Homo sapiens: one gene and its partners. The protein of the gene in region 1 purifies or fractionates together with the protein of each later gene. This does not show direct contact. Each region holds a gene or a part of one and is shown in the gene's direction. Other genes may lie near its edges.

Region 1 (7,022 bases):
GCTCTAACACAATTTTCCAGGTTAATTACCACATTAAGTTAAATGCAGTATCCATAATAGTAATGTCACTCATTAATGATTGTGTCATTTTGAATAGGCCTTAATTAGTAATTACAGATTTTTGTGGTGGTTTATCGTGTTTTGTAATATGTTAGAGTACACTGGATTTGCTGAACTCTGGTAATTTAGAACTCTGAGCCATACAAAGAGAAGTTCTGTACTCTAAAAAGTATTTAATCTAACTGTATGCATAACTCCAATATTTTGCCTGAACAGATTTAGTCATTGTGGAAGTCCCGATTTCTGTCCTGTGGGCATGATTATTTGCATTACAAAAGGCTTCACCAAAATTTTTCATTGGGGAATAGGTGCATTTCAATATGATTTTGTATTCATAATGTTCAAGGAAAGGAAATGCTTTATTGAATCTAATTGATTTTTGCTTCTTGTTTTTTTTTTTCCCCTATTATTCTTCAGGTTTTTTTGCCCACCTCCTTGTGTATATCTTATGGGCAGTGGATGGAAGAAAAAAAAAGAACAAATGGAACGCGATGGTTGTTCTGAACAAGAGTCTCAACCGTGTGCATTTATTGGGATAGGAAATAGTGACCAAGAAATGCAGCAGCTAAACTTGGAAGGAAAGGTAAATCAAGACTGCTAGTTCACCAGAAAGGGGCACCATGGTACCAGAATGTAGTTTTCATATTCATTTTTGTGGTGGAGATTTTTTTCTTTAATAACTATTGGTAACAATTTCTTGAATATATAAACTAGGACCAAAAAACATGCCTCTCATAGCTTTGGTCTAGTCACTCATGAAGCTTACGCTGCTGACATTGGAAGGTGGCATGCAGTAAGCTTCCCCAGCTTGCAAGCAGTTTTAGCAGACTATAAATCAGATTTCTATTGGAAGCCAGTAATAAATTTAGGAGGCTGATTGCTCATCTTCTGTTTGACAGAGGTTTATCAACAAAAATACATTGTTCAGTAATGTTTTACTCTGCTATTTTAATCTTAGTTTTATACTAGACACGATGATATATACATTGTGGAAAGCATTTATCTGGGTTATAACGATCATAAACGTTTACTTGACATCAGAGTGAAGCAGAGTGATACTGTAGACAAGAACAGCCACAGTTGGCTTTACTCAAATTTTAGTGCGTGGCAGGGGTTCTTCAATTAATTTTCTAGAGAAAACAATCTATCAGCTAGTTTTACTGATTATATTGTATGAATTTAGAAAGCAGTCAATCTAGATCTTTTTTTTTCTTCCCCCGGGACAGGGTTTTTACTCTGTCACCCATGCAGAAATGCAATAGTGCAATCTTGGCTGACTGCAACCTCCACCTCACAAGTAGCGGGACCATAGGTGTGTGTCACTATGTCCAGCTAACTTTTTTGTATTTTTTTGTAGAGATGGGGTTTCGCCATGTTACCTAGGCTGGTCTTGAACTCCTGAGCTCAAGCAATCCATCCACCTCAGCCTCCCAAAGTGCTGGGATTACGGGTGTGTGCCACCGTGTCCAGCCAATCTATACTTTTAGTATTGAAAGATAGTTTTTTATTCACTTAGAATTTAGCTATGGTTTTATTTTTCCTTGCTACTGTACTTTGGAAAATGGTTAGTTCTGATCTCAATGACTAAACATCTTCTAAAATAGCGCATAAACAGCTGTTTCATTATTTGATACATCCTTGTTGAATATTTTAGTGTTTGCTATGTTGTAGTTGGCACTAGGTATATGGGTTGGGAGTAGTGTTGGTGGAGGTGAGCTAGGGGATTTGTACTCTCAAATTGAATTTTAGTGATTTTACAGATAGTACTACAGGTCTTAATGTCAACCTCCTTCAAATTTAGCTGTTTGTATGTCATTTATATCTTTATAGTTTTTGTAAGTAAGATTTGTTGACTATGTATTTTAAATTAGATTTGGGATAATACTTATTACAATAAAGATTGTTTCATCTTAAACCACTAAAACTATTTCTAAATTATGATCCCTGAGCTAAAGTAACGAATATATTTAAGTGGTGGGTTGATCTAATAGATCTTAAGTCTTGTCTCATCTGTTTTCTTGTTACCTAGGAAGTCTCAGAGTTATATGTCTCCAGGCTTCACATGTAGACATTCAGTACTATGAATGAGTGGATCAGATAGGTAGTGAGAAGCCAGGGATTCTAGCTACCTGTGTGTATAACTGTTTAATCCTACTTCATTGCTCATTTTAACCAGTTCCAGCTTCCAGTAATTTTAAATGAGGTGATACCAAATAAACCAACCAGTAGTATCACTGCTTGCCTTTCGCAGCATTGTGGCTTAGTAGTGCCACATCCTAATTTTGTACCTTTAGGGGCTGCCTCAACATGGAGATCTTTCTGCTGTTTTTCATTATATCTTTCTTCAACTTCCACTAGTATACCCTTTCCCCAAGGCCTAGAAACTGGCAGAAGAGGAATAGAATACCTGAGAGCTTGAGCATTTAACTAGTATTTAAAATACCTAGTAATAGGTTAGTACAATGTCTGTAAGCCAAAATTATATGTTAATATTTAATTTTAAGGAAAAATTCTATTAGGGAAGTTTATGTAAAGCAAGACTGGTGAGAGTTAGTAGAAGGCATCCCAGGCAGAAAAAAAAACAATATAATCATGTGCTTAGAGCATAAAGGTATAAGAACATGGTTTTGACCAAGGTAGGCAAAGATGTCCTGAGCAGCGGATTCTGAGCTTCAGTGAGAGGCACTTTGCTCTTGTCTGCCTCACTTAAACTCCATTCGTGTAAGGAAATAGTCTGTTCATTGAGTGGTACAATTAGTTATTGAGAAATATGGGATATTCATTTTGCAATTTTTGGTGTTTATACTTATTTTAAATATTCACTGCAACAAAATTCTAGTATATCTAGCCCTTTAAATTTATGGTCATGACATTTGGCTGTATGTAGGTAATATGTTGGATCTTAGATTTTGTGTAATGTTTTTAATTTGTTAAAAAAATTTACATTTTTTATAGTCACAGCTAGGTAAGCTACGCAACAAGGATGACTTAGTTAACACTCTTGTGTTTTTCTTATTTTTAAACATCATATACTCTTGGTAACATTTTGTTTCTATAATTTAAACATTTCTGCAGTATCACTTTGCAGCATTAGATTTGGTATTTCTTCTTTCTTTCAGGGAAATGTCTTTTATTGCCTAAAGATCTTGTTTTCAAAGAGTATTTCTAGAGAGATGATTATATGCCATTTTCTCTTCTAGAATTCCGTTAGCTAATTTAACCTTTTGCAATAGCAAGGCAAATGTAATTTTAGTTTTATTTGCTTATTTTCTATGAGTCAGTGACTTTTTCCTTCTTTTCTTAATGGAATTTGAGTAGTTTGTGGTCAGTGGCCTTATAGTTTTTTAAAACTAATAGTTCCCATAAAATTATCTTGATTATGATTTTTGTGGATTCAAACTACTCATTGTAATTAGGGATATATTTCCTTTCTTTCCAAGGAGATATATGTGTGTTTGTTTTTTCCGAACAAAATGCAGTTCTTTTTGTGTAGGTCTTATGATCCAACCTTCTTGGTTCTTTTTTTCCGTTCTTGTTTGCCAATATGTCTTATTTATGCTGGATTTCAGTATTTTCTCTTTCTGATATGGATCTTACCTTTTAATTTTAACACTCAAAAGCCATCTCAACATTTTTAAGCTTTCCCATTAGAATGTAATTACCTTCATTTAGATATAAATTTCATTTTTGCTTCCCATGACTGTCTGCTTTAGTACATTGATACCCATTTTCATAGACCTCGTCTTATGTTGCAGAAGAATTTCATTGTTTAGGCTTAATTTGACCTTCAATGCTGTCTGTCACTTTTAAGAGTATGGCCGACCTATGGGTATAGCAGCTCACAGATGCCATCTCTGAGTGCGTTAGAGATCTTGGGTGCAAGGAGTGATGTGACTGCAAAGTACTGTTGTTTTTTGTTTCTTTATCTTTATTCATTTTGAGACAGGGTGCCACCGTGCCGCCCAGGCTGGAGTGCGGTGGTGGGATCACGGCCCATTACAACCTCTGCCTCCTGGGCTCAAGCGACCGTCCCACCTCAGCCTCCTGAGTAGCTGGGACTACAGGCATGCACCACCATGCCTGGATAATTTTTGTGTTTTTCGTAGAGATGGGGTTTCACCATGTTGCTCAGGCTGGTCTCAAACTTCTGGACTTAAGCAGTCTGTCCACCTTGGCCTCCCAAAGTGCTGAGATTACAGGCATGAGCCACCACCCTGGCCTGTTTTTATTTATTACTATGATTGGCTTTATCTTATTTTTGCCTTCTACAGAGCAAAACCTCTCAAAGCTTTTACCAAACTTTTGATTTTTAAAAACTTAGTTAAATGTATAATGTTCAAGATGGCATCTAAATTTTCTTATATAGCTTTGCTATGAGAAATACAATAAACTATTGCAGTAGTTTTGTCTGCTACCGAGGCTGTCTGTGAATAAAATTTTAAAGATAAAAACCTAGAAGTCATTAACTGTTTCCTGAGTAGCATTTGCTCTGCTTTTTAAAAGGAAGATACAGGAGAGGCAGTTGAAGAAACTTGTTTAGCTTAATTTTAAAGTGGAATGTTGATCCTTTAAAAAATATAATTCGATACTTTAGATACTTATGCTGTGTTTCAGCATCATTTATCTTATCTGGAAAAGGACAATAATTTAGACCCCTCCCTGATTCACAGGGATCAAGAGAATAGGAAAGATTTTAGAATTGTTATATATAATATAAGCAGTAGCATTTTGAAGGGTCTTTGCTGTTTGTAAAGTGCTATATCTCTTTATCTTTTCAGTTATCAGAATTTAAATTCTGGTAAACTGACATAATGCCTTGAGCATTTTCTCTAGTACCTTTAAATTCAGTTCTTCTGGTGATACATATGAATCGTCCTTTTGGGCAAAGTTAACCATTTTAAAAATAGTTCTTTAAAGTAATGCTTATATAATCTCTTTCTGGTTTAAGATATTTTATAATCATCCAGTTTGTCTATCATTGTTTTCCTCAATCTTATAAGTGATTACTCTAGTGTTCAGCTATATAAAGAAAAATATTTTATGCACTATTTTGAGAAGAACTACTGCTAAAATCTTTTACATAATTTCTTGAATTCTGATAGCTTTATTATTATTTTTTTTTTGGAGAAAGTCATTGATTTTTTTTAACTGTAAAATTTATTTTAAAAGTTACTGCTGTAACGTTGAGTGATAATTCCATGATACAGTTGTAGAGCTATGTAAAACAAGAAAAGGCTGTTTTTTTAAATGGTCTTTTAAAGAGGATACAATAGATGACAATGTTTGTGTTCTACAGACTTTATAAGGAAGACTTTGTACTTTTCCGAAATCAATTTCAGTAATTTTTATAGTTGATAATTTTTAGAGTTGGTTTTATCAGCTATCCCTTGGAATTGTTTTACTTATTACTTAAACCATGGCCATTCTGAGTTTTAGGTACTACATAAACAAACAAGGTTTTGCTGCTGTTAAAACTTTACTTTTCTTTCACAGAACTATTGCACAGCCAAAACATTGTATATATCTGACTCAGACAAGCGAAAGCACTTCATGTTGTCTGTAAAGATGTTCTATGGCAACAGTGATGACATTGGTGTGTTCCTCAGCAAGCGGATAAAAGTCATCTCCAAACCTTCCAAAAAGAAGCAGTCATTGAAAAATGCTGACTGTATGTATGCTTTTCTTATTTATCCCCAACTGCCACCATGAATTAATAAGACAGACTCTTTTTTAAATTAAAAATTGCCTTTTCAATAGCCAATTAATTCTTTACTAATATTTTTGTGGCCCTCTTTATTGTCTCTCTTTTTTTAATCGTAAATCGACAGTATGTGGTCTAATGAAGCAGTTCTTAACCAGAGTTGGTTCCTTAATGCTCCCAGGGACATTCTGGGGAAATGGGAGATTTTCTCCTTCTGTTGTTACAGTGACTGGAGGGGGTGATGTTGGCTTTGGGTGTCTTGAGCCTGTGGTGCTGAATTGAATGTCCTGCAGTGTCCAAGGTAGTTCCCATTCCACAAAGAATTGATCTACCCACAATGTCAACAAGTACCCCTTTGAAAAACGCTACCAACTAAATGGGCTTTGGCAGGCCTTCCTGAGAATCTAAACACAATTTTTAATGTGGTTGCTCTGGCAGAGACTGCTGTCTCATCAGCCTATTTTTAGACTACCAAACAAGTATGTTTGAATTATAAATTTAACCTCCACACCCATTTTTCTTTTTTTAACTTTTTATTATGGAGACTTTTCTTTTTTTTTTTGAGATGGACTCTTACTCTGTCGCCCAGGCTGGAGTGCAGTGGCAGGATCTCAGCTCACTGCAACCTCCACCTCCCGGGTTCAACCAATCCTCCCTGCCTCAGCCTCCTGAGTAGCTGGGATTACAGGTGCCCACCATCACGCCCGGCTGATTTTGTATTTTTTAGTAGAGATGAGGTTTCGCCATTTGGCCAGGCTGGTCTTGAACTCCTGACCTCAGGTGATCCACCCACCTCGACCTCCCAAAGTGTTGGGATTGCAGGCGTGAGCCACCATGCCTGGCTGAGACTTTCAAATTTATATAAAAGGGAGAAATTAGCCACCCAGCCTCAACAGGTTTTATCAATTCTGTTTCATTATCTCCATCACCACCAACACCTCTTCGTCTTCTAATTGCTGGAGTATTTTAATGTAAATCTCATCCTATCCTTTCAACCAAAATTTCTGCAATAGTGACTAATACATGCCCTTTTTTTTGAAACATCATTATACGTAACAGTTGACAGCAGCTCTTAAGTGTCATCTAATATCCTATTTCATGTACAGATTTATCAGATTGACCCAGAATGTCTTTTTATAGTTTTTTTGCTTTGTTTTGTTTTACAGTGGTTTGTTCAAACATGGATTCAGATAAGGTCCACACATTTTAGTCTGTAATAGTTTCTTCTCACCCTCTCTCACCTTTGTTTTCCTTCTATGTC
Region 2 (8,011 bases), on another chromosome or scaffold:
AACCTGGGAGGCGGAGGTTGCAGTGAGCTGAGATCGTGCCATTGCACTCCAGCCTGGGCTACAAGAGCGAAACTCTGTCTCAAAAAAAAAGAAAGAAAGAAAGAAGGAAAAACTGGCCTCAGTTACATATTTAGAAAAAGAAGAAGTATTTTAATAATTGTCAACAAGTGCAGTCAGTTTTTTTTTTTTTTTAAACAGAGTTTTGCTCTTGTCGCCTAGGCTGGGGTGCAATGGTGCGATCTCAGCTCATTGCAACCTCTGCCTCCCAGGTTCAAGCAATCCTCCTGCTTCAGCCTCCTGAGTAGCTGGAATTACAGGCTAATTTTCTTTTCTTTATTTTTTTTTTTTGAGATGGAGTTTTGCTCTTGTTGCCCAGGTTGGAGTGCAGTGGCATGATCTCTGTTCACTGCAACCTCTGCCTCTCAGGTTCAAGCAATTCTGCCTCAGCCTTCCGAGTAGCTGGGATTACAGGCACATACCACCATGCCCAGCTCATTTTTTTGTATTTTTAGTAGAGACGGGGGTTTTACTATGTTGGTCAGGCTGGTCTTGAACTCCTGACCTCAGGTGATCCACCCGCCTTGGCCTCCCAAAGCGCTGGGATTACAGACGTGAGCCACCGCACCCAGCTACGCCTGGCTAATTTTCTGTATTTTTAGTAGAGACGGGGTTTCACCATGTTGGCCAGGCTGGTCTCGAACTCCTGGCCTTGGGTGATCCTCCCACCTCGGCTTCCAAAGTGCTGGGATTACCCGTGTAAGCCACCATGCCTGACCTGTTTTTCTTAAAGTGATAAACTCATTTCATTTATTTTTGAAAAAATGTTTGCCAAATACTTAAATATGAACAACTGTACTTTGTGAGTCATTCTTTCAGGTAAAAATAATGTTCCATGAAAAAAGCTAACCACTCAATTACAAGTGGTTTTCTTTTCGATGACCATTCTACTTAGATATGCATTAGCTGGGCATGGTGGCGTATGCCTGTGGTCCCATCTACTCAGGAAGCTGAGGCAGGGGAAGATCGCTTGAGTCCAGGAGTTTGAGGCTAAAGTGCTTCATGACTGAACTTGTAAATAGCCACTGCACTCCAGTCTGGGTAACACAGTGAGACCCCATCTGTAAGAAATTTTTTTAAAAACATACTTTATGATTACTTCTCATTTTGTCATACTGAAGGTTAAAAAGACGTATAATTAAGGGTCAGGGTTTAACGAAATGAATACTGTTTATGGCTTTATTAAGGATATTCCTAAGGGAAACTGATTTTGCTTACAACGCCTATGTAACTGAAAAATACAGTGACTACTACAACATTTTGAATCCTACTGCCTTGATTTATTTTAAGGGACTGTTTTAATTTAGGAATTTTAAGATAGAGCATGCTTCTTCAATGATTAGTAGAAACACAGATATAAACAAAGATTTTATTACTTACATGCCTGGCGGGGCATCTGGCGCACCTGGAGGTCAAGGAATGCAGTCAGGGAAAGACAAAGAGGGACTCATGAGCCAATGCATTTATTGGGTTCATGGTGTTTTCCAAATAGATTTCCCAAGAGGAATTCCCACACTTTAATTGGTGGGTTTAAAGCAAGCATGCACAAATTTGAGGACAAGCTTGTCAGCCCAGAATGGCTTTGAATGTGGCCCAACACAAATTCGTTAACTTTCTTAAAACATTGTGAGATTTGTGATTTTTTTAAAGTTCTCAGCTGTTGTTAGTGTATTTAATGTGTTGCCCAAGACAATTCTTCTTCTTCCATTGTGGCCTAGGGAAGCCAAAAGATTGGACACCCCGTTCTTGGAAGTCATGCTGTGACCGAGGTAGTCACTGTGGCATATCTGCACAGTCCATGTAGGACGTCAGTGTCAGCAGGGCCGGTGAAGTAGGCTGTATGTATTTATCCTATGGGGAGGCGGGCACCAGGAGGAAGTTTTACACAATAGATACCTGGATTGATCACATTGAGGAACTGGGAGGAGGTGTAGAACTAGAAACGGTGTCAAGGGTGACTGAACCCTGTTTCTGATATGAGAAAGTCCAACTTATATTCAAAATAAATGCTAAGACAACATAAAATTGTAAGAATTTGGCCGGGCGTGGTGGGCCACGCCTGTAATCCCAGCACTTTGGGAGGCCGAGGCCGGCAGATTGCCTGAGGTCAGGAGTTAGACACCAGCCTGACCAACATGGGGAAACCCCATCTCTACTAAAAATACAAAAAAAATTGGCCGGTCTGGTTGCGCATGCCTGTAATCCCAGCTACTCAGGAGGCTGAGGCAGGAGAATCGCTTGAACCTGGAAGGCAGAGGTTGCAGTGAGCCAAGATTGCGCCATTGCAATCCAGCCTGGGCAACAACAGCGAGACTCTGTATCAAAACCAAAAAAACAAAAAAACGAATACACTACAGGCACCGTAGATTTACCCACTGTTAACCCATTTCCCATTTTCCCTGAGAATACTCTCTGATGGTGCTTGCAGCTGCAGCCTTTACCCCAAGATAACTCACAGATTACAGTCCCGACTTAACCCCCAAAGTTTGTGTCTACTATTTTATTATTTTTGCATCACTCTATTATATTGACTTTGGAAACAAAAGACATTATTCTATTTATAGCATTCTGTTTTTAGTAGTGGAATTTCCATTTACAAAATATAGTAATTCTCGACTGCTGAAAATGTCAAATCCTAGAAAACATAGCATTCCTATGTGTGATGTTAATTCCATGGTGAACTTATGGCACTGAAATGGTGTGACAACAAGGCAGTCACAATGTTGTCAATATTCCACAATGATACTGTGATTGAAGTAGACAACAGATGGAAAGAAAACTAAGAAGCCATGTGTCATTGTGGATTATAACGATAATATGGGAGCAGTGGACTTGGCTGATCAGATGCTCACTTCTTATCCAGCTTAGCGCCAAAGGTACAAGGTTTGGTATAAGATATTCTTTCATAGGCTGTGTGCAGTGGCCCACGCCTGTAATCCTAGCACTTAGGGAGGCTGAGGCGGGTGGATCGCTTGAGCTCAGGAGTTCAAGACCAGCATGGGCAACATGATGAAACCCTATCTCTACAAAAAATACAAAAATTAGGCCGGGCACAGTGGCTCACGTCTGTAATCCCAGCACTTTGGGAGGCTGAGGCGGGCATATCACTTGAGGTCAGGAGTTTGAGACCAGCCTGGCCAACATGGTGAAACTCTGTCTCTACTAAGAATGCAAAAATTAGCCAGGGGTGGTGGCAGGGCCTGTAATCCCAGCTACTCGCAAGGCTGTGGCAGAATTGCTTGAACCCAGGAGGCGGAGGTTGCAGTGAGCTGAGATCGCGCCACTGCACTCCAGTCTGGGCAATGGAGCGAGACTCTGTCTCAAAAAAAAAAAAAAAAGTCGGGTGTGGTGGCGGTCACATGTAATCCCAGCTACTTAGGAGGCTGAGGCACAAGAATCGCTTGAACCCAGGAGGTGGAGGTTCATTGAGCCGAGATTGTGCCACTGCATTCCAGCCTGGGTGACAGAGTGAGATTCTGTCTCAAAAAGAAAGAGATTCTTCTCCACCTTCTAAACGTTAAAGTGTTGAACTCCCACATTCTGTTTAAGAAGGACAATCCTGAGCACACGATTAGCCTTGTAAACTTTAGACTGACAGGCCAGGTGCAGTGGCTCACGCCTTTAATCGCAGAACTTTGGGAGGCTGAGGTGGGCAGATCACAAGGTCAGGAGATTGAGACCATCCTGGCTAACACGGTGTAAACCCTGCCTCTACTAAAAATAGAAAAAATTAGCTGGGCGTGGTGGCGGGTGCCTGTAGTCTCAAATACTAAATAGCCGGGCATGGTGGCGCACACCTGTAGTCCCAGCTGCTCGGGAGGCTGAGGCAAGAGAATCGCTTGAACCTGGGAGGCAGAGGTTGCAGTCAGCTGAGATCACGCCACTGCACTCCAGCCAAGGCAACAGAGGGAGACTCAGTCAACAACAACAACAACAACAACAAAAAGGCAGAGCGCGGTGGCACGGGGCCTGTAATCCCAGCACTTTGGGAGGCCAAGGTGGGCAGATCACCTGAGGTCAGGAGTTCAAGACCAGCCTGGCCAACATAGCAAAACCCCGTCTCTACTAAATACACAAAAATTAGCCGGGTGTGGTGGCAGGCGCCTGTAATCCCAGCTACTCAGGACACTGAGGCAAGAGAAGAGCTTGAACCTGGGTGGCAGAGGTTGCAGTGAGCCGAGATCACGCCATTGCACTCCAGCCTGGGCAACAGAGTGAGACTCTGCCTCAAAAAAAAAAAAAAAAAAAAAAAAAGCAAAGGGTGTCGCCTGTAATCCCAGCACTTTGGGAGGCCGAGGCAGGCGGATCACTTGAGGCCAGGAGTTCGAAACCAGCCTGGCCAACATGGCAAAACGTCGTGTCTACTAAAAATACAAAAAATTAGCTGCGCGTGGTGGTGGACGCCTGTAATCCCAGCTACTTGGGAGGCTGAGACAGGAGAATCGCTTGAACCCGGGAGGCGGAGGTTGCAGTGAGCCGAGATCACGCCATTGCACTCCAGCCTGGGCGACAGAGGCTCCGTCTCAAAACAAAAACAAAAACAAAAAAAAAACAAACCAAAACAAAAAACCAAAAATTAGCCGGCACCTGTAATCCCAGCTACTCGGGAGGCTGAGGCAGGAGAATCGCTTGATCCCGGGAGGCAGAGGTTGCAGTCAGCTGAGATTACGCCACTGTACTGCAGCCTGGGCGACAGAGGCTCTGGCTTAAAAAAAAAAAAAAAAAAAGGGAAAGGATGTTATAGAAACTCCAGATACTACTTCTCCCCTCCAGTGGTCTGAGTTGCGCGGCGCTTTCCCGCCTGTCCGGTAGGGCGGTGCCGCGCAGAAAGCCGCGGTCCCTCTGCGGAAGGCGCCGCTCTTGGCTTCGGCGGCGCCGCTGTAGCTTGAAGGCGGTACTTCCTCCAGCATTTGCCGCAAGTTATTGGCAAGTTCCCCTGCAGTTGTTTGGGCTGTCCCTGTGGCTGGTTCTGGGGTGTGCGGCCAGCCATGGAGCGCTCTGGGCCCAGCGAAGGTGGGTTTCATGAGGCGAGTCCGGGCGGGGTGGGCCGTGTCGGGGGAGCTGGGGCGCCGCACTAACTAGGCCGCCTCTCTTTTCCTCTTGCTCCAGTGACAGGCTCAGACGCGTCGGGACCGGACCCGCAGCTTGCGGTCACCATGGGCTTCACGGGGTTCGGTGAGTGACTGCCCCAGGCAGAGACCCTCTTCCTTGTGCAGAGGTTTGAAGATCCGCAGAGTGGGAGTGGAGATCGAGCTGTCAACTCGGAATTATTGTAGCTCGGGTGCATACCTTGCAGTTTGTCAATATTCTTCTCCCATTTGTCTTCTATTCTGCGTTATCCGTTGGAACCAACTCAGATGACAGTTATGAGAGTCTGGAGAGAGAGGAAGAGAAAGGATTTTTCTAATTTTAAGTCACCAATAATGCTAAAATGAACATTTTTGTAAATAACAGCATTTGTACGAGGATTTTTAAAAATACGTAATTCGGTAGGGTAGATTTCTAAAAGAGAGTGTAGTTTATTCAGAAATATAAATACTTAAAAAGCTGAAAAATTGGGTATGTGCCTTTTAAAGCTTCTTGATGCTTATTGCCGTAATACCCATCAAAAAACTTGTTCCAGGTTATACCAAAGTTAACAGAATTAAGAATGCCATTTTTACCATATCCCTACCAACACAGAGTAGGTATTATTATTTAAAAAGAAAATTATTTAAAAAATGAAAACAAAACTTAGTAGACTGATACATGAAAAATGATTTCTCTTTATTTTCCATTTTAAAATTATAAATGCTGTTCATCCAAACATTGGGATTCTAACTTCCCTGAACCTTTTCTCAAGGTCTTCTTGTTTTCTTTTGACCAGCGTGTATTAATTCTATGATAGTAATTAAACAGTAGACTTACACATATTGGCCTTGGGTTGTGTTCACACATACTAGTTCTGTAGTTTCTCTATTCATTCTTTTTTTTTTTGGAGACGGAGTCTCGCTCAGTCGCCCAGGCTGGAGTGCGGTGGCAAGATCTCGGCTCACTGCAATCTCTGCCTCCCGGATTCACGCCATTCTCCGGTCTCAGCCTCCCGAGTAGCTGGGACTACAGGCGCCCGCCACCTCGCCCGGCTGATTTTTTTTTTGTATTTTTAGTAGAGACAGGGTTTCACCGTGTTAGCCAGGATGATCTCGATCTCCTGACCTCGTGATCCGCCCGTCTCGGCCTCCGAAAGTGCTGGGATTACAGGCGTGAGCCACTGTGCCCAGCCTTTTCTATTCTTTTTTTATTTTTTGAGATGGAGTCTCGCTCTGTCACCCAGGCTGGAGTGTACTAGTGCGATCTTCGCTCATTGCAGCCTCCTCCTCCCAGGCTTAAGCCATCCTCCCACCTTAGTCTCCTGAGTAGCTGGGACCACAGATGTGTGCCACCACACCTGGCTAATTTTTTATACTTTTGGTAGAGACGAGGTTTCACCATGTTGCCCAGGCTGATCAATCTCCTGAGCTCAAGCAGTCCGCCCACCTGAGCCTCTCAAAGTGATTACAGGCATGAGCCACCCCACCCGGTATAAATCCTTCATTTTAGTACATCATTCCTTTACTCAGGAGTGAGAAAGTTGTCCATATGTTTGTGCCAAATAGGGGAAAATTTTAAGAGTTTTGATAAAGTTACTGGGGGAGGAGGAGAATGTTTCCATGCTCATCCAGTTCCTTGTTAGAGGGCTGAGATTTCTGTTTCCCTCTTAGCTCCTTAAAGTACCTGCATTACTTCTCATGTTGCCCCTTTCGTCTTCAAGCCAACTATAATGCCTCAAATTCTTCTCAGACATTGGATCTCTCTGACTTCTTCTGCCATAGCTGTTCTGCATCTTTGCCTTTAAGGGCCAAATAGGATAGTTTCCCTATTTAAAAGTCCATAACCTTAATTATATTGCAAAGGGTAACTTTTGGGGCATTCTCCATTTTGCCTCCCCACATCAGTGTTGTTGTTTCATAGGGTAGGGATCTAGAGGAGGATGGGAAAGTTGCCTGGTTAATAGTACTTAGTGAAGGGATTGTCAGCAGAAGTTTTCTGTGACTCAAACTCCTTCTTCTGTGATATATTATGGTTATATTGGAGCCATGCTATAAACTAGACAAAGTAAGTGTTTATTGATCAGTATTGATCACCTAAAGTTTGGCCAACTTACTGCAAGACAATCACAGTCTCCCATTTGTTCATGTTTTAGGTAAAAAAGCTCGCACATTTGACTTGGAAGCAATGTTTGAACAAACTCGAAGGACAGCTGTGGAAAGAAGTCGCAAAACACTGGGTAAGAAGCTCAGATATTTGTTCTTTTATTGGTTTAAGTACTATGTATACCTCATGCAAGTATATTAAAAAAGAGAAAAGAATGTTGGCTGGGCGCGGTGGCTCATGCCTGTAATCCCAGCACTTAGGGAGGCCAAGGCGGGCAGATCACCTGAGGTCAGAAGTTTGAGACCAGCCTGGCCAACATGGTGAAACCCCATCTCAACTAAAAATACAATAATTAGCTGGGCATGGTGCAGGGGCCTGTAATCCCAGCTAGTCGTGAGGCTGAGGCAGTGGCTTCAGTTGAAGTCGGGAGGCAGAGGTTGCAGTGAGCTGATATACCCCCATTGCACTCCAGCTTGGGGGACAAGAGTGAAATTCCATCTCAGAGAACAAAGAGAGAAAAGAATGTTGTTATGCTACTTATCACTGTTGTTTTTTTTTTTTTTTGAGATGGAGTCTCGCCCTGTTGCCCAGGCTGGAGTGCAATGGCATGATCTCGGCTCACTGCAGCCTCCACCTCCCCGGTTCAAGCGATTCTCCTGCCTCTGCCTCCCGAGTAGCTGGGACTATAGGCACATGCCACCACGCCCAGCTAATTTTTTGTATTTTTAGTAGAGATGGGGTTTCACTGTGTTGGCCAGGCTAGTTTCGAACTCCTGACCTT
Region 3 (7,495 bases), on another chromosome or scaffold:
AAATGTTTATGGGTTAGATTGAGAAAAGTGTATGTTTATAGAAAACAATAAAGACTAAACTGAATTAGAGTAGGCATAATTCCACCACCTCTGAGACAACCATTCTTCTTGGTGCATTTTCTTCTCATCATTTTCCTCATTTTTTTCCTCAAATAAGTTACCCTCAGTCTGGCTGATCTTGAAAATATGGTGAACTTTTATTATTTTTTAAATGTGCTAATTATAATGAATTTCTTTTCAATCAATAGGAGGATGAAATTTTGAACAGATCACCAAGAAACAGAAAGCCACGAAGAGAGTGAAACAATCTTAAGAGCTTGATCTGTGATTTCTTCTCCCTCCTCCCCTGCAAGAGTGGTCCTAGGAGAGGACCTGGCACACCTTAGGTTGACATTCAGAAAACTTCAAGACATCACCATCAGCAGGCTCCAGTTGAACACTAGTCTGTGTAACTTTAAACATCTAGCAGTAAATACTTGCAGTTGTGATATAAAGGACCCTGTTTCTGTAGAAAAGAAAACATTTAACATAATGGTTGTGAAATGTAACATGAAGCAAACTAACTTTTTTTTTTTTAACATCTTTGTTTTTAAAATAGAATGATAGAACTTTGCCAGTCTTTAAGATCTTGGCTTAATTTAATGTATTAATCTGTTTGTGCAAACATAATACCACCATTTAAAAATGTTAGGGAGATGAGTTGCAGTTTTTATAATAGATTTTTTTTAAAGTTTGGTATTGTAAAACATTCACACCTCTGTCCCTCAAAATTGATAATTACGTTTAAAGTGCAGTCATTTGTGGTTAGAATCTTGTTTTGTTTGCTTCCATTATTGAGTTCCTCCTAAGGAAATTGAGGAGAGGGACTGAATAGAAGCCCAAATTCATATAAAAGTTGCGTTTAAGTTGTATTAAAAATAGATATATAAGAAAAAATTCTTTCACTTGATGTTTGTTAGACCAGAAAGTGTGTGTGTTCTGTAGCTCAGTTCCCAGACAGCTTTTTAGGTAGTGGAGGAGGTGGCTTCATGTGGCACTTGGGCATTTATATTCCACTTGGGAGGGTCAGGCTGTGGCCTTCTGGAGCAGGTGGCTTGTTAAGGAATGCTAGCAGGGCATGGCACGTGAGCTCCGGAATAGATGTCTTCATCACTTCTTCCACTGTGTGTTGACACTGTTTTCCTTACCTATTTCCTCAGATCCCCAGCTTTCTCCTCTGCTATGCATTTTCTTCACAGTGCAGCTTGCAGTCCGTTGCTGAAAATGATTATAAGCCCTGCATAATGTTAAGCTTTATTGTGATTACGTGTATGTTTCTTCTTTCTTTTAAGCAGACCCATACCTTTCCAGGGTCAAAGTACAGAATAGAATACATTGATACAAAGTACAGAAAAATACTTTGATTTTTATCCATTTCTTTTACTCTGTGTAAAGACTTGAGAAGTCTAATTCACAGGCAAACCAATACAGAATTGACTGCAGTTGAACAGACTAGAAGTATTTGTGGGAGGAGTGACATGAAGCATGAGTTATCTGATTTTTTTTGTAGCTGCTATATATTTTAAGCCTTCATTTGCAATTCATGTAACAGTTGTGTCATAAATTACACAATAAAGCAGTCCTGTTCAAATTTTTTTTTAACGTGGCTTGTAGAATTTTTAAAAAAGTGATCTTAGGTTTGTTTTTTCATGCGGGATGCAGATGGGTGCTATCAGAGCCTCTCCCACACCACTATAGTGTAATAATGTTATTATTACTCTACACTGAAACGTATTCAGAGTTAGATATTATTTTAGCTTCAGTTGTTCTTTAGAGGCTTTCAAATGTACCGATGATACTGTTTCTTGCACTGAATATATAAACACTCCACAGTGTTTATATTGGGAAGATATTGGGAAGGAAATATATTTGTAAAAGATGAAGGCTGTATCTATTTTTTTTTCTTTTTAAAGTTTGTTCACTTAAATTCTTTTGAGGATGGGATGTATTTTTCTTGCTGTTCAGTGCTTTTTCCTTTTCATCTGTTGTTCTGTGGTCACAGTGACCTTAGCTACATAGCAGACTTTCCCAAATGTATTGATTACAAATAAACAGTTGTTACTTAGCAAGACCTGAAAATATGTCTGCAGGTTTCTCCTTGAAGCAAATGTGTGGGATCATTGCATTTCCAGAAATCTGCCTCCTTCACCCTCCGTTGACAGTATATGTCATGCCTCACTTTCTTCTAGCTGAGCTTTAAATCATTAGAGCTTAAATTGTCAGATCGTTCATTGCCTTTCCAGGGTTATTTAGTAAAGTTTGTTGAAAACAAAAACGCCTTTTCTTGGTTCTTTTTTCAGTTATTTTGAAGGTCCAGCATCCTGATTAAATGTCTGACACATTAATGAATGACCAGCAGCAGCTTTCAGCTCTTAAAAAGACACTTATATTTTGATTTTACATGCTGGTTACCTGTTCCATTGTTGTCAAATGCCCACTCTCCATCAGATGTGTTCCTCCATTTTCTTATCCACAAAGTACTCCTCACTTTTCAATTTGTCATGTTACTAAATGGTGTTACATTAAAGCCCTGTGTTAAGTGTCTGCTTTTGACTGAATTTCTTCATAGTAACCTTCAGTGTGTGTGTGTGACTATGTTCAATTAGTGGGTTGATCTTCGTATAATTGGCCACTATGTGAGAGTTCACTACTAGGCAGAAACTATTATGGACAGTGAAATAATGACTTTTATCTCACCACGTGAGTTTGATGCAGTCTTTTCTGTCTAGCCCTTGCCTCTTCCTGCCCATGTGATTGCGGTGCAGTAGTTTCTGTTGTATAATAGTGTGGACAGCAGCTCAGAAAAGGAGGGAATGCTACTGATAATTTGTAGATAATATTCTTTAAGACTTAGGGGAACCATTGAACTTTGAAATTTTTATTAGAAAATTATTTGTTCAGAATCAGACTCCATTATTTTACATATACTTAAATACTTTAGGGGTATTTTTGAAAGTTAGCCCAGTTTTTTATGTGCTATTAAATTTTTAGATTACATACTAAAGAAAAGTATGTACACAGAATGTAGTGCTCCTAGTTACTATTTTTTCTATTAAGAAATAGTTTAGTTCTGGTGTAAAATTTGTTTGAATGCTAAAAAAAAAAAAGCAGGACTGCATTATGGCACTTTTGCCTTGGTGGCCCACTTTCTCCATTTAAAACATTAGGATTTGTATTTTTCTGCTGCGTTTGTATGAAGACATATTTGATTGTTGTTTTCTCTTGATTTTAAAATAAAACCTCATGAGCCCTAGTAAAAAGCTAGAGTAACGAATGTTTGAACTACTGATGGTGTATCTCAATGTGCAGCCTCCTGCCACCTCCTGCTTAACCTTTTAGCAATTAGAGTGCCCATATCTAGAGTTCCTGATATCCTTTGGCATCACACTATCTAGTTTTAGTACTAACACTGTTTGATTGCTCCAGTCCCTCTACTCCCCTTTGCCTATTAGTTTTAATAATGGGGCATAATTTGTCTTGGTTTGGTTTTGTTGAGTAACTCAGTTTTACCTAAAGGACTGTTTTTGGTCCGGCGCGGCGGCTCACGCCTGTAATCGCGGTACTTTGGCAGGCCGAGGTGGGCGGATCACCTGAGGTCAGGAGTGGGAGACCAGCCTGACCGACATGGAGACACCCCGTCTCTACTAAAAATACAAAATTAGCCGCGCGTGGTGGCGCATGCCTGTAATCCCAGCTACTGGAGAGGCTGAGGCAGGAGAATCGCTTGAGCCTGGAAGGCGGTGGTTGTGGTGAAACGTCGTCCTTTGCATTTCCAGTTCCCTCTAATGGAGCTGCACTCTTGCATGCTTTTGCTCACATCTTCTGGACTTTTTTTTTAAGTAGTGAGTAATACTGCACTTTTGAAACTTGCTCGGGCTTTTACAAATAGGTGGAAACTACCAGTGATTCGGAATGTTGCAAGAGGAAACTACCAGCTCACTAGACGATTCTGACCAATTATGGGGCTGGATACAAGGAATAAGGTCAAAGTAAAACGGCTGACATTAAAATAGCGTGGCTACTTAGAGTTTATCAAAGTCGAAATTTAAAAAATAATTTAAAAAAAAGGTCTCTGTACTGCCAGGCGGGCGACAGGGACTGGCCAGCTGCGCCGCACTCGCCTGCCAGATTCCCCTTTTCTCGGGGTAGCCGGAAGGGCCTGCCTTCAGCGGGTGCTGTGCAGGAAACCAATAGCCGCCTCTTGGACGGGCTCCTGTCAGTCACGCTTAGCTCCGCCCCCAGGATTAAGGCCCGCCCAGGGGCTTCCCTCCGCCCTTCGCTTGAGAATTCCTTTTAAATACCGCTCTGGCGCCCGAGCGCGCCTCTTGCGTGCTCGTCCCCACGCCCTCGGGCGGCCGGTTCTTCCTTCTCTGATTGGCCAGGGCCCCTGCTCATCAGTCGTGATGCACAAGGTCTCTTACCGAGGCCCCGCCTTCTTCCGAGAGGCCCGAAAACAATTTTAAGATGGCGGCCGCGGCGGTAGCGCGGAAAACAATGGGGCCGGGGCGGTGGGGAGAGGCCGAGGCTTGAGGTAGGCAGCAAGCGCCGGCTGGGGGTCGGGCCGAGCGGGGCAGGAGGAAAACCCGCCGCCGCGCGCGAGCCCGCTCCGCTGCCCTCGGGGGCATGGCGCGGCCGTGAGGCGGAGAGGGGTAGCCGCGGGGAGCGAAGCCCGCAGTGCCAGCCGGCCCCGAGAGGCCCGGCCCCGGGCCCGGCCCGTGCAGCCCGCGGCCCATGGTGCTGCCCACCTGCCCCATGGCGGAGTTCGCGCTGCCGCGGCACAGCGCGGTCATGGAGCGCCTTCGCCGGCGCATCGAGCTGTGCCGGCGCCACCACAGCACCTGCGAGGCCCGCTACGAGGCCGTGTCGCCCGAGCGCCTGGAGCTGGAGCGCCAACACACCTTCGCCCTGCACCAGCGCTGCATCCAGGCCAAGGCCAAGCGCGCCGGGAAGCACAGGCAGCCGCCCGCCGCCACGGCCCCGGCGCCCGCCGCCCCGGCCCCGCGCCTGGACGCCGCTGACGGCCCCGAGCACGGCCGCCCGGCCACGGTGAGTAGGGCGCGGGAAGGCGCTTGTCGTGGCGGCAGCCCCCTCTCCCGAAAACGCTTCCTCTGACGCGGATCGGGCCGCTGGGAGACTTCCCCAGGCGTCCGCGACTCCTGGATCTGGCTGGAGAGAGGGTAACATGGCAGGGAGCTGAGAGGTTGTCATCTTTGGGAAGTGGCACGGTGGCGTTACTTTGGGAAAACAGCGCCTTGAGGGCCTTGCAGGAGGCCCGACCTGGGAAGGCTGGCGAACGCTAACCGGAGGGTTTTTCTTCCAGACTTGATTCCGGGATGTTGAGATCTTTATTCGAAATAGACTAGCATTCGAGTCGCCTGTGATGGAGGGAGTTCCTGCACCGTAGGCCTGGCCTCATTTATTCTGCAAATGTTTATTGGGTCCTTGCCCTTTACAAGATCCTGTGCTGTGAGCAGGATCAGGGCTTTCATGTGGAAATAAGTCGGCCTTTGGTTGACCAACTGAAACTCCTCTGAATGGAAAATCAAGAAATTTTTGGAAAACTTAGTAAAATGTTCAATGAGTTGCATATAAGTATTCCTTGTTTAGGTAGCCTGAACTTTGTGAACTTGAGATTCCTGCAATATTGTTGACAATTCTAGTTTTAATTTATCAGGCCTGTTTAAAATCTCTGATGATGTTAGATTGTTGGTCAATTATTACTCCCTTTGGGCTCTCAGTAAATGTTCCTGAAATTTGTTGGTTAGAGGTTTTTCTTCCTGAAACAGATTTACAAAAGAGACAAGGTTTTTCAGTGGTTTTCTTGGGGATTTTAGTTTAAAACCAATGTTAAAATCTAATTTGTTATGTGTATTTTTAAATTCATACCTTTATTATCTCTCACCTGGGCTATTGCAGTGCCTGTCCCTAGCTAACTAACCAGTCTGTAGGCATTTAGTTTCTTTCTCCCTTATTCTCGAAATGCTGGAAATCCTTCTCTTGCTTGAAAGGATGAAGTTCAAAGTCTTTAGTTTGGCATTTGGGACCAGTCTGACCTAACCTATCTTTTAATGTCCCTCACAGGTCCTCTGCTCTGGTTGAATTATTTTTCTCATTCTCTTCCACACTAGCCTCGATTGCTGGGTTAGAAGAAAAAAAACCACTCAGATTTCATTGCTTATTGTATCAACTGGTCAAGCCTTCTCATCTTCACTTTTCTCATCTGTAAACTAGGGGCATGTTGGGCTTATTATCGCCCCGTGTTCTTTCCCTGCCCTCCCCTCACTCTGTCGCCCAGGCTGGAGTGCAGAGGCACAGTCATGTCTCACTGCAGCCTCAACCTTCCTGGCTCAAGACTCCTCAATCCTCCCGCCTCAGCCTCCTCAGTCCTCCCGCCTCAGCCTCCTGAGTAACTGGGATCAACCACAGCTGCACATCACCATGCCTGGCTAAATAAAAAAAGTTTTTTTTCTGTTAGAGATGGGGTCTCACTATATTGCCTAGGCTGGTCTTGAACTCCTGGGCTCAAGTGATCCTTTCTTCCAACTTGATCTCTGAAAGTGCTGAGATTATAGGCATGAGCCACCGCACCGTGCCGCCCCCAGGATTCTTTTAAGAATAAAAAGAAATGAGTGTGGACATGAAAATACAGTATTTCGGGGGAAGGGATAGCATTGGGAGATATACCTAATGCTAGATGACGAGTTAGTGGGTGCAGCGCACCAGCATGGCACATGTATACGTATGTAACTAACCTGCACATTGTACACATGTACCCTAAAACTTAAAGTATGATAATAATAAATAAATAAATAAAATACAGTATTTCATAAATTTAAAGGCCGCCTGTGGGACCCTCCTCCATCCCTTTCAGAATCCTGCCACCCTGCCAGTCCCAGCTTATCTCTTTCTTCTGCCTTAAAGCTAGTTCCTGACCAGCCTAACCCACAGCAGTAAGAATCTCCTTTGTCAAAACATTTAGGAAACATATTATCTATGCTATTTGTTTTATTTATTTATTTATTTTGAGATGGAGTCTTGCCCTGTTGCCCAGGCTGGAGTGCAATGGCGCGATCTAGGGTCACAGCAATCTCCGCCTCCCAGGTTCAAGTGATTCTCCTGCCTCAGCCTCCCTACTAGCTGGGATTACAGGTGCTGGCCACCATGCCCAGCTAATAATTTTTGTATTTTTAGTAGAGATGGGGTTTCACCATGTTGACCAGGCTGGTCTCGAACTCCTGACCTCAGATAATCCACCCACCTCGGCCTCCCAAAGTGCTGGGATTACAGGTGTGAGCCACTGCACCTAGCCTATTTATTTTTTTTTGAGACAGCGTCTCGCCCTGTCACCCAGGCTGGAGTGTAGTGACATGATTTCTGCTCACTGCAACCTCTGCCTCCCCGGTTCAAGCGATTCTCCTGCCTCAGCTTCCTGAGTAGCTGGGATTACAGGCGCACA
Region 4 (7,213 bases), on another chromosome or scaffold:
GACAAATTCACAGCCAACATCATACTGATGAGAGAAAAGTTGAAAACATTCCAAGAACTGGAACAAGACAAGAATGCCCACTTACACTACTGCTATTTAACATAGTACTGCAAGTTCTAGCCAGAGCAATCAGGCAAGAGAAATAAAAGGCATCTGAATTGGAAAACAGGAAGTCAAATTGTCCCTGTTTGCAAATGATATAATCTTATATCTAGAAAAACCTAAAGATGCCACTGAAAAAGTATTAGATTTGATAAATGAATTCAGGAAAGCTTCAGTATTCAAAATCAAAACAAAAAATCAGTAGCATTTCTGTACCCTAACAACATCTAGCTAAGAACAAAATCAAGAAGGCAATTCTACTTTTAATAGCTACAAAAAGCTCACCTCAGAATACATTTAACCAAAGAGGTGAAAACTCTCTACAAGGAAAGTTACAAAATACTGATGATAGAAATTGTAGATGATATAAACAAATGGAAAAACATCCCATGCTGTTCAGAGGAATTAATAATGTTACAATTATCATACTATCCAAAGCCATCTACAGATTCAATGCACTCCCTATCAAAATATCAACGTCATTCTCCACAGATTTAGAGAAAAAAAATCCTAGGCCGGGTGCGGTGGCTCACAGCTGTAATCCCAGCACTATGGGAGGCCAAGATGGGCATATCATGAGGTCAGGAGTTCAAGACCACCCTGGCCAACATGGTGAAAACCCATCTCTACTAAAAATACAAAAATTAGCCGGGCATGGTGGTGCACACGCGTAATCCCAGCTACTCTGGAGGCTGAGGCAGGAGAATTGCTTGAACCTGGGAGGCAGAGGTTGCAGTGAGCCGAGATCATGACCCTGCACTCCAGCCTGGGTGACAGAGTGAGACTCTGTGTAAAAAAAAAAAAAAAAAAAAAAAAAGAGAAAAGAAAAAGAAAAAGAAAAAAAATCCTAAAATTCATATGCAACCGAGAAAGAGCTCAAACAGCCAAAGCAATCCTGAACAAAAAGAACAAAGCTGGAGGCATAACTTCACCTGACTTCAAATTATACTATAAGGCTATAATAACCAAAACAGCATAGTACTGGTATAAAAACAGACACATAGGTCAATGGAACAGATAGAGATCCCAGAAATAAAGCCACATATCTACAGCCAACTGATCTTTGACAAAGTCAACAAGAACAAGCATGGGGAAAATACAACCTCTTCAATAAATGGTGCTGGGAAAATTGGATTGCCATATGCAGAAGAATGAAACTTGACCCTTATCTCTCGCCATATACAAAAATCAACTCAAGCTGTATTAAAGACTTAAATGGAATACCTGAAACTATAAACATACTAGAAGAAAACCTACGGAAAACCCCTCTGGACATTGGTCTGGGTAAATAATTCATGACTAAGACCTCAAAAGCACATGCAACAAACAGAAAAAGAGAGAAATGGGACTTAAACTAAAAATCTTCTTCATAGTGAAATAAACAGTAAGCAGAGTGAAGAGACACTTGCAGAATGGGAGAAAATTTTTGCAAGCTTTGCATACAAGAGGGGACTAATATCTAGAGTTTACAGGGAACTCAAACAGATCAACAACAACAACGAAACCCAAATAATCCCATTAAGAAGCAGGCAAAGAACACAAATAACACTTTACAAAAGAAGACATACAAATGGCCAACAGGCATATGAAAATATGCTCAACATCATCACTAAACATCAGAGAAATGCAAATTTAAACCACAATGAGGCCGGGCGCTGTGGCTCACGCCTGTAATCCCAGCAGTTTGGGAGGCCGAGGTGAGCAGATCACCTGAGATCAGGAGTTCAAGACCAGTCTGGCTAACATGGCGAAACCACGTCTCTCATAAAAAATACAAAAATTAGCCGGGCATGGTGGTGGGCACCTGTAATCCCAGCTACTTGGGAGGCTGAGGCGGGGAGAATTGCTTGAACCCAGGAGGCGGAGGTTGCAGTGAGCCGAGATCAAGCCACTGCACTCCAGCCTGGGCGACAGAGCGAGGTTGTGGGGGAAAAAAAAGAGATATTATCTTACATCAGTCACAGTAGCTGTTATTAAAAAGACAGGCCGGGCCGGGTGCGGTGGCTCACGCCTGTAATCCCAGCACTTTGGGAGGCCGAGGCGGGCAGATCACGAGATCAGGAGATTAAGACCATCCTGGCTAACACGGCGAAACCCCGTCTCTACTAAAAAATACAAAAAAGTAGCCAGGCGTGGTGGCGGGCCCCTGTAGTCCCAGCTACTTGGGAGGCTGAGGCAGGAGAATGGCGTGAACCCGGGAGGCGGAGCTTGCAGTGAGCCCAGATCGCGCCACTGCACTCCAGCCTGGGCGACAGAGCGAGACTCCGTCTCAAAAGGAAAAAAAAATCAAAACAAACAAAAACAGGCCGAGCTCGGTGGCTCATGCCTGTAATCCCAGCACTTTGGTAAACTGAGGTGACCGGATCACCTAAGGTCGGGAGTTTGCGACCAGCCTGACCAACATGGAGAAACCTGTCTCCACTAAAAATACAAAATTAGCCGGGTGTGGTGGTGCATGCCTGTAATCCCAGCTACTCAGGAGGCTGAGGCAGGAGAATTGCTTGAACCTGGGCGGAGGTTGCGGTGAGCCGAGATCGGGCCACTGCACTCTAGCCTGGGTAACAAGAGCAAAACTCCGTCTCAAAAAATAAAATAAAATAATAAAAATAAAAAGACAAAGAAGATGTTGGTGAGGATGTGGAGAAAAGGAAACTCCTATACACTGTTGGTGAGAAAGTGAAATTAGTATAACCTATGGAAAACAGTGTGGAGAATTCTCAAAGAACTAAAAATAGAATTACCATTTGATAAAGCAATCCTGTTACTGAGTATCTACCCAAAGGAAATCATTATATATATAAAAAAAATACCTGCACTCATATGTTTATCACAGCACTATTCACAATATCACAGGTATGGAATTAACCTAAATGTCCATGAATGGATGAATAAAGAAAATGTGTTATATATACACAATGGAATACTATTCAGCCATAAGAAAGAATGAAATTGTCTTTTGCAGCATCATGGATGGAACTAGTGGCCACTATCTTCAGTGAAACAACTCAGGCACAGAAAGAAAAACACATGTTTTCACTTTAAGTATGAGCTAAAGGATATGTACACATGGATGTAGAGTGTGGGATGATAGACAATGAAGACTCAAAAGGTGTGGGGGGGTTTCAGGGATAATCATAAATTACCTGACTGGTACAATGCATATAACGTACTATAGGGCGTGGATACCTTAAAAGCCTTGACATCACCACTACACAACTGATGCATGTAACAAAATTACACTTGTACCTCATAAATTTATAAAAGTTTTTAAAAGCCAAAAACAAAAGAATTCTAGAAAACTTGTATCTGCCTCTGTGAATGTCACCTCTTCCCAATACTTAAGATCAATAATGATTAGTGGATATTTTCCGTTGGTGCAAAAGTAAGTAATTGCGGCTTTTGCCATTAAAGTAAACCAATATTTTCCAACTGGCCAATACATGATGTTACGAAATCATGCGTGATAAAAGAATCCATTCAAAGTGCAGTGTAGACCAACGGATTTTATGTAATAGAGTAGAAAAAGTTCATCTACGTGGTTTCAGATTGTACACTAACAAAACTATCCCTTGTTCGACTTGTATCTTTATATACTTTAACAAAAACAACATACGCAACAGATTAAACATAGAAGCAGATATGAGAATCCAGCTTTCTAGTAAGTCAGAAAAGACTTAAAAAGCGAAGCCACTCCTTACTAAATTTTTTCTTTTGTAAAATATATGTAATTTTCATTAAAATATTATTTATGTTAACATGTAATGGGAATTTTACGAATCTGTTATTAAAGTGTAAAGCAAAATAAGACTTTTACCATTTCAGTAAAGCAGGGACTAGAACACTTGTAACCTAATTTACATCCCTCCAACCGTTGAGCCATTGGTGTCAAGTATTTTAATTCTCTTTAAAATTTAAAACCTGCAAGCGCGGGAGCTCAGGGACCTGGCCAGGAAGGCCTGAGCTTCCGGGTCATCTTAGCACGCCCCCTCCCGGTGGCCCTTGGCCGGAGCCCTCCGGCGCGGGAGTAACTCCTCGCAGAGGCCTCTGGGAGTTGTAGTTTTTTTGCCTTTGCCTCTCCATGACGCAATTCCTGTGCGACATACGTAGCGGCCGCCATTGTTCCGCGCCGATGGCGAGATCCTTGTTCCTCAGATAGCGTTCATCGCCCGTCGTGGTCAACGGGCCAGCCGAGTCTGGAGTGGTTGCGAACCCTTCTGGCTGCAGATCTGGAGGTGGAGGCAGTACCCTGGACTCTATTCTGCTGCCCCTTCAGGGTTTGGAGGAGCCGGAGGTGCGGAATTCCTCCGGTTTCAAGGCGGCGGGACGGGACAGAACTAATCTGCCTTAGCTCTCTCCTGCTGCTGACCCGGGGCGGTTGCCTGACCCTAACCTGTGTGTTGGTGAGGGTGTGGAGATGGTGAATCCCGTGCTGTGGGAGGGAAGGAGCCTCAGCTCCGAGAATGGCAGGCAGCCCTGGTGCCTCGGACCCTCCCCCTCTGGGTTTGGGGACTGCTGGGTGACCTCTTTCTTCACTGTGCTCTCTCTTCTAGCATCCCTCGCGTCCTGTCACTTCCAGCGAGGCACACAAAACTGACCGTAGGGATGGCCACCAGGGTCCGGACAGCTTCTATTTGGGTGAGTAGGGGTTTTCTTTCATTCTTGAAAAGCTCTCCCTGAATGCCAACGTGTGCGCACTCCATCTACTCCAGTCTGAATTTGCCAGGAGCTTTCTCACCCCACCGCTCTTTTAGGCAACTGGATCGTCATTTATAGCATGTTAGACTTTCCAGAAATGCTTCTTGTCATCCGACTTCCTTTTTTCCTCCTTTCATCAATCTCTTTTCTAACAACTTTGTACGCTGAACTTTGGAGTTAAACAAGGGATACTCACACATCTTTCAGTTTTTTCAGCCTTTATTTACTGAGGGCCTTCTGTATCTGGGATCTTTAAACCTTATTTTGGAAATTACAAACTTTTTTATTCACTTGTTCAACATTTTTTTTTATTGTATTTTGTTTGCTGGACCCTGGGGCAGGTGCTAAAAATGCAAAGATGGGTTGCTTATCATCCCTGTCTTGAAGAACAGTGGTCTAGGAATGGTGGATAAGAAAGACAATGACAAGTTAATGAGTGCTCTGGGAGCAGGCTGTGGAAATACACGGAGACATGCAGGAATGGGTCAGTTTTGGAAGTAAGGACACCCCCTAACCCCTTACTCCCAAATGCTTCAATGATTAAGAGATTCTTAACCTTAGGTTTGAAAGATGACAAACCTAAAGTAGACAAAGGATTAAAACCAGCCTAGGAAAAAGAAGTAACGTGCAAATTTGAGAGGCTTGAAATGACCTCATGTGGTGAACTTTGGGCACTTTAGGGTTGCTAAAATGTTGAGTTTAATGGTGATAGTAGAGTTATATTAAAAAATGAGGCTAGAGCCGTAGGCCTAAGATCATAGAGGGCTTTGAGGACCCCATTAAAAACTTGGATTGTATCACATAGGGCAGGTGGTCCCCAACCCCCACGCTTCAGACTGGTACCAGTCTGTGGTCTGTTAGGAACTGGGGTGCATGGCAGGAGGCGAGTGGCGGTTTAGTGAGCATGACTGCCGGAGCCCCGCCTCCTATCAGAGGCTGCATTAGCTTTTCATAGCACAAACCCTATTGTGAACTGCGCATGCGAAAGATCTAGGTTGCGCACTTCTTATGGGACTCTAATGCCTGATGATCTGAAGTGGAACAGTTTCATCCAGAAGCCATCGCCGCACCCGACTGCCCGTCCATGGAAAAATTGTCCTCCACAAAACGAGTCCCTGGTTGGGGACTGTTGGTATAGGGGAAGGAGTTTACTTATTGAAGTGTTTTCACAACGGATTTGAGGGTAGAACAGTCTAGTCTGCAGCAGGTAAGAGAATATAAGGGTTTAAGTAAATTAGTGGTTTTGAGAAAGGAGAGGAGGTGGCTGGGTGCAGTGGCTCCCACCTGTAATCCCTGTTACTCGGGAGGCTGAGACAGGAGAATCGCTTGAACCCAGGAGGCAGAGGTTGCAGTCAGCCGAGATCGCGCCACTGCACTCCAGCCTGGGTGACAGAGCAAGACTCTGTCTCAAAAAAAAAAAAAGGAGAGGAGGTAAAGAGGCAGAAGAAATTAGATTTCATAACTAGTTGGGTGCAGTGCTAAGAGAGGCAGAAAAGCCAGGGATGACAACTGGAGTTCTACTCTGTGGGCCTGGTTGGGAGTGTCACCATTTGCTGAGTAAGGGAAGACTGTCAGAATTGTGATTGGTAGAGGGGGAAGATTTCAGTTTTGTATGGATTGGCTCCTCTAGGTAGAGGTTGCAAATTAGGTGTGGCCAAAGTAGCTCAGGGAGAATGTGTACCCTAAGAAGAGAACTGAGGACAGTGGTCAGGGAAATGACAAGAGAAAGCAGGGGAAGAGGTGTTGAAGACTGAGATGGAACCCAAGAAAAGTAAGACAAAATAGAGACATGTAATTCACACTTAAAGAAATGGAAACCTCAAAAATGCTTGTCAAGTGACATGTATGAGGGAGATCAAGTAATATTAGATCATTGTCTTAGTCTGTTTGTGCTACTGTAACAAAATATCACAGACTGAGGAACTTATAACAGATACTACTTTCTCACAATTCTGGAGGCTGACAAGTTGAAGATCAAGGTGCTGGTGAATTTGGTATCTGATGAGGCCTGCTTTCTTGTTTTCTTTTTTTTTTTGGAGACAGTCTCTCTCTGTCCCCAGGCTGGAGTGCGGTGGCGCGATCTTGGCTCACTGCAACCTCTGCCTCCCGGGTTCAAGTGATTCCCCTGCCTCAGCCTCCCAAATAGGACTACAGGCGTGTGCCACCACGCCCAGCTAATTTTTTTTTTGTATTTTTAGTAGAGACGTGGTTTCATTGTGTTGGCCACAATGACCTCGATCTCCTGACCTCATGATCCACCTGTCTCAGCCTCCCAAAGTGCTGGGATTACAGGCGTGAGCCACCGCACCCGGCTCTGCTCTCTGCTTTCAAGATGGCACTTTCTTGCTACATCCTTACATGGTGGAAGGGGGCAAAAAGGGAAGAATGCTGTGTCCTCACATGGCCAAAGAGATGA

What was found.
Region 2: the proteins of RBPJ (region 1) and WDR70 purify together in Homo sapiens (affinity purification with mass spectrometry; 4 studies listed by BioGRID and IntAct, with this or other methods). This does not show direct contact.
Region 3: the proteins of RBPJ (region 1) and MAML1 purify together in Homo sapiens (co-immunoprecipitation; 14 studies listed by BioGRID and IntAct, with this or other methods). This does not show direct contact.
Region 4: the proteins of RBPJ (region 1) and ZNF268 purify together in Homo sapiens (affinity purification with mass spectrometry; 4 studies listed by BioGRID and IntAct, with this or other methods). This does not show direct contact.

What each region holds. Positions count from the first base shown.
Region 1 is NC_000004.12:26,414,998-26,422,019, forward strand, and holds part of RBPJ (recombining binding protein suppressor of hairless), read left to right. Parts: intron 1-477; coding exon 478-643; intron 644-5,553; coding exon 5,554-5,728; intron 5,729-7,022. UniProt on the Homo sapiens protein: Transcriptional regulator that plays a central role in Notch signaling, a signaling pathway involved in cell-cell communication that regulates a broad spectrum of cell-fate determinations.
Region 2 is NC_000005.10:37,374,323-37,382,333, forward strand, and holds the start of WDR70 (WD repeat-containing protein 70), read left to right. Parts: upstream 1-4,995; 5' UTR 4,996-5,045; coding exon 5,046-5,070; intron 5,071-5,166; coding exon 5,167-5,232; intron 5,233-7,279; coding exon 7,280-7,363; intron 7,364-8,011.
Region 3 is NC_000005.10:179,728,343-179,735,837, forward strand, and holds the start of MAML1 (mastermind-like protein 1), read left to right. Parts: upstream 1-4,479; 5' UTR 4,480-4,770; coding exon 4,771-5,085; intron 5,086-7,495. Other genes in the region: CANX (calnexin), read left to right, coding at 249-302. UniProt on the Homo sapiens protein: Acts as a transcriptional coactivator for NOTCH proteins. Has been shown to amplify NOTCH-induced transcription of HES1. Enhances phosphorylation and proteolytic turnover of the NOTCH intracellular domain in the nucleus through interaction with CDK8.
Region 4 is NC_000012.12:133,177,294-133,184,506, forward strand, and holds the start of ZNF268 (zinc finger protein 268), read left to right. Parts: upstream 1-4,201; 5' UTR 4,202-4,393; intron 4,394-4,652; 5' UTR 4,653-4,704; coding exon 4,705-4,737; intron 4,738-7,213.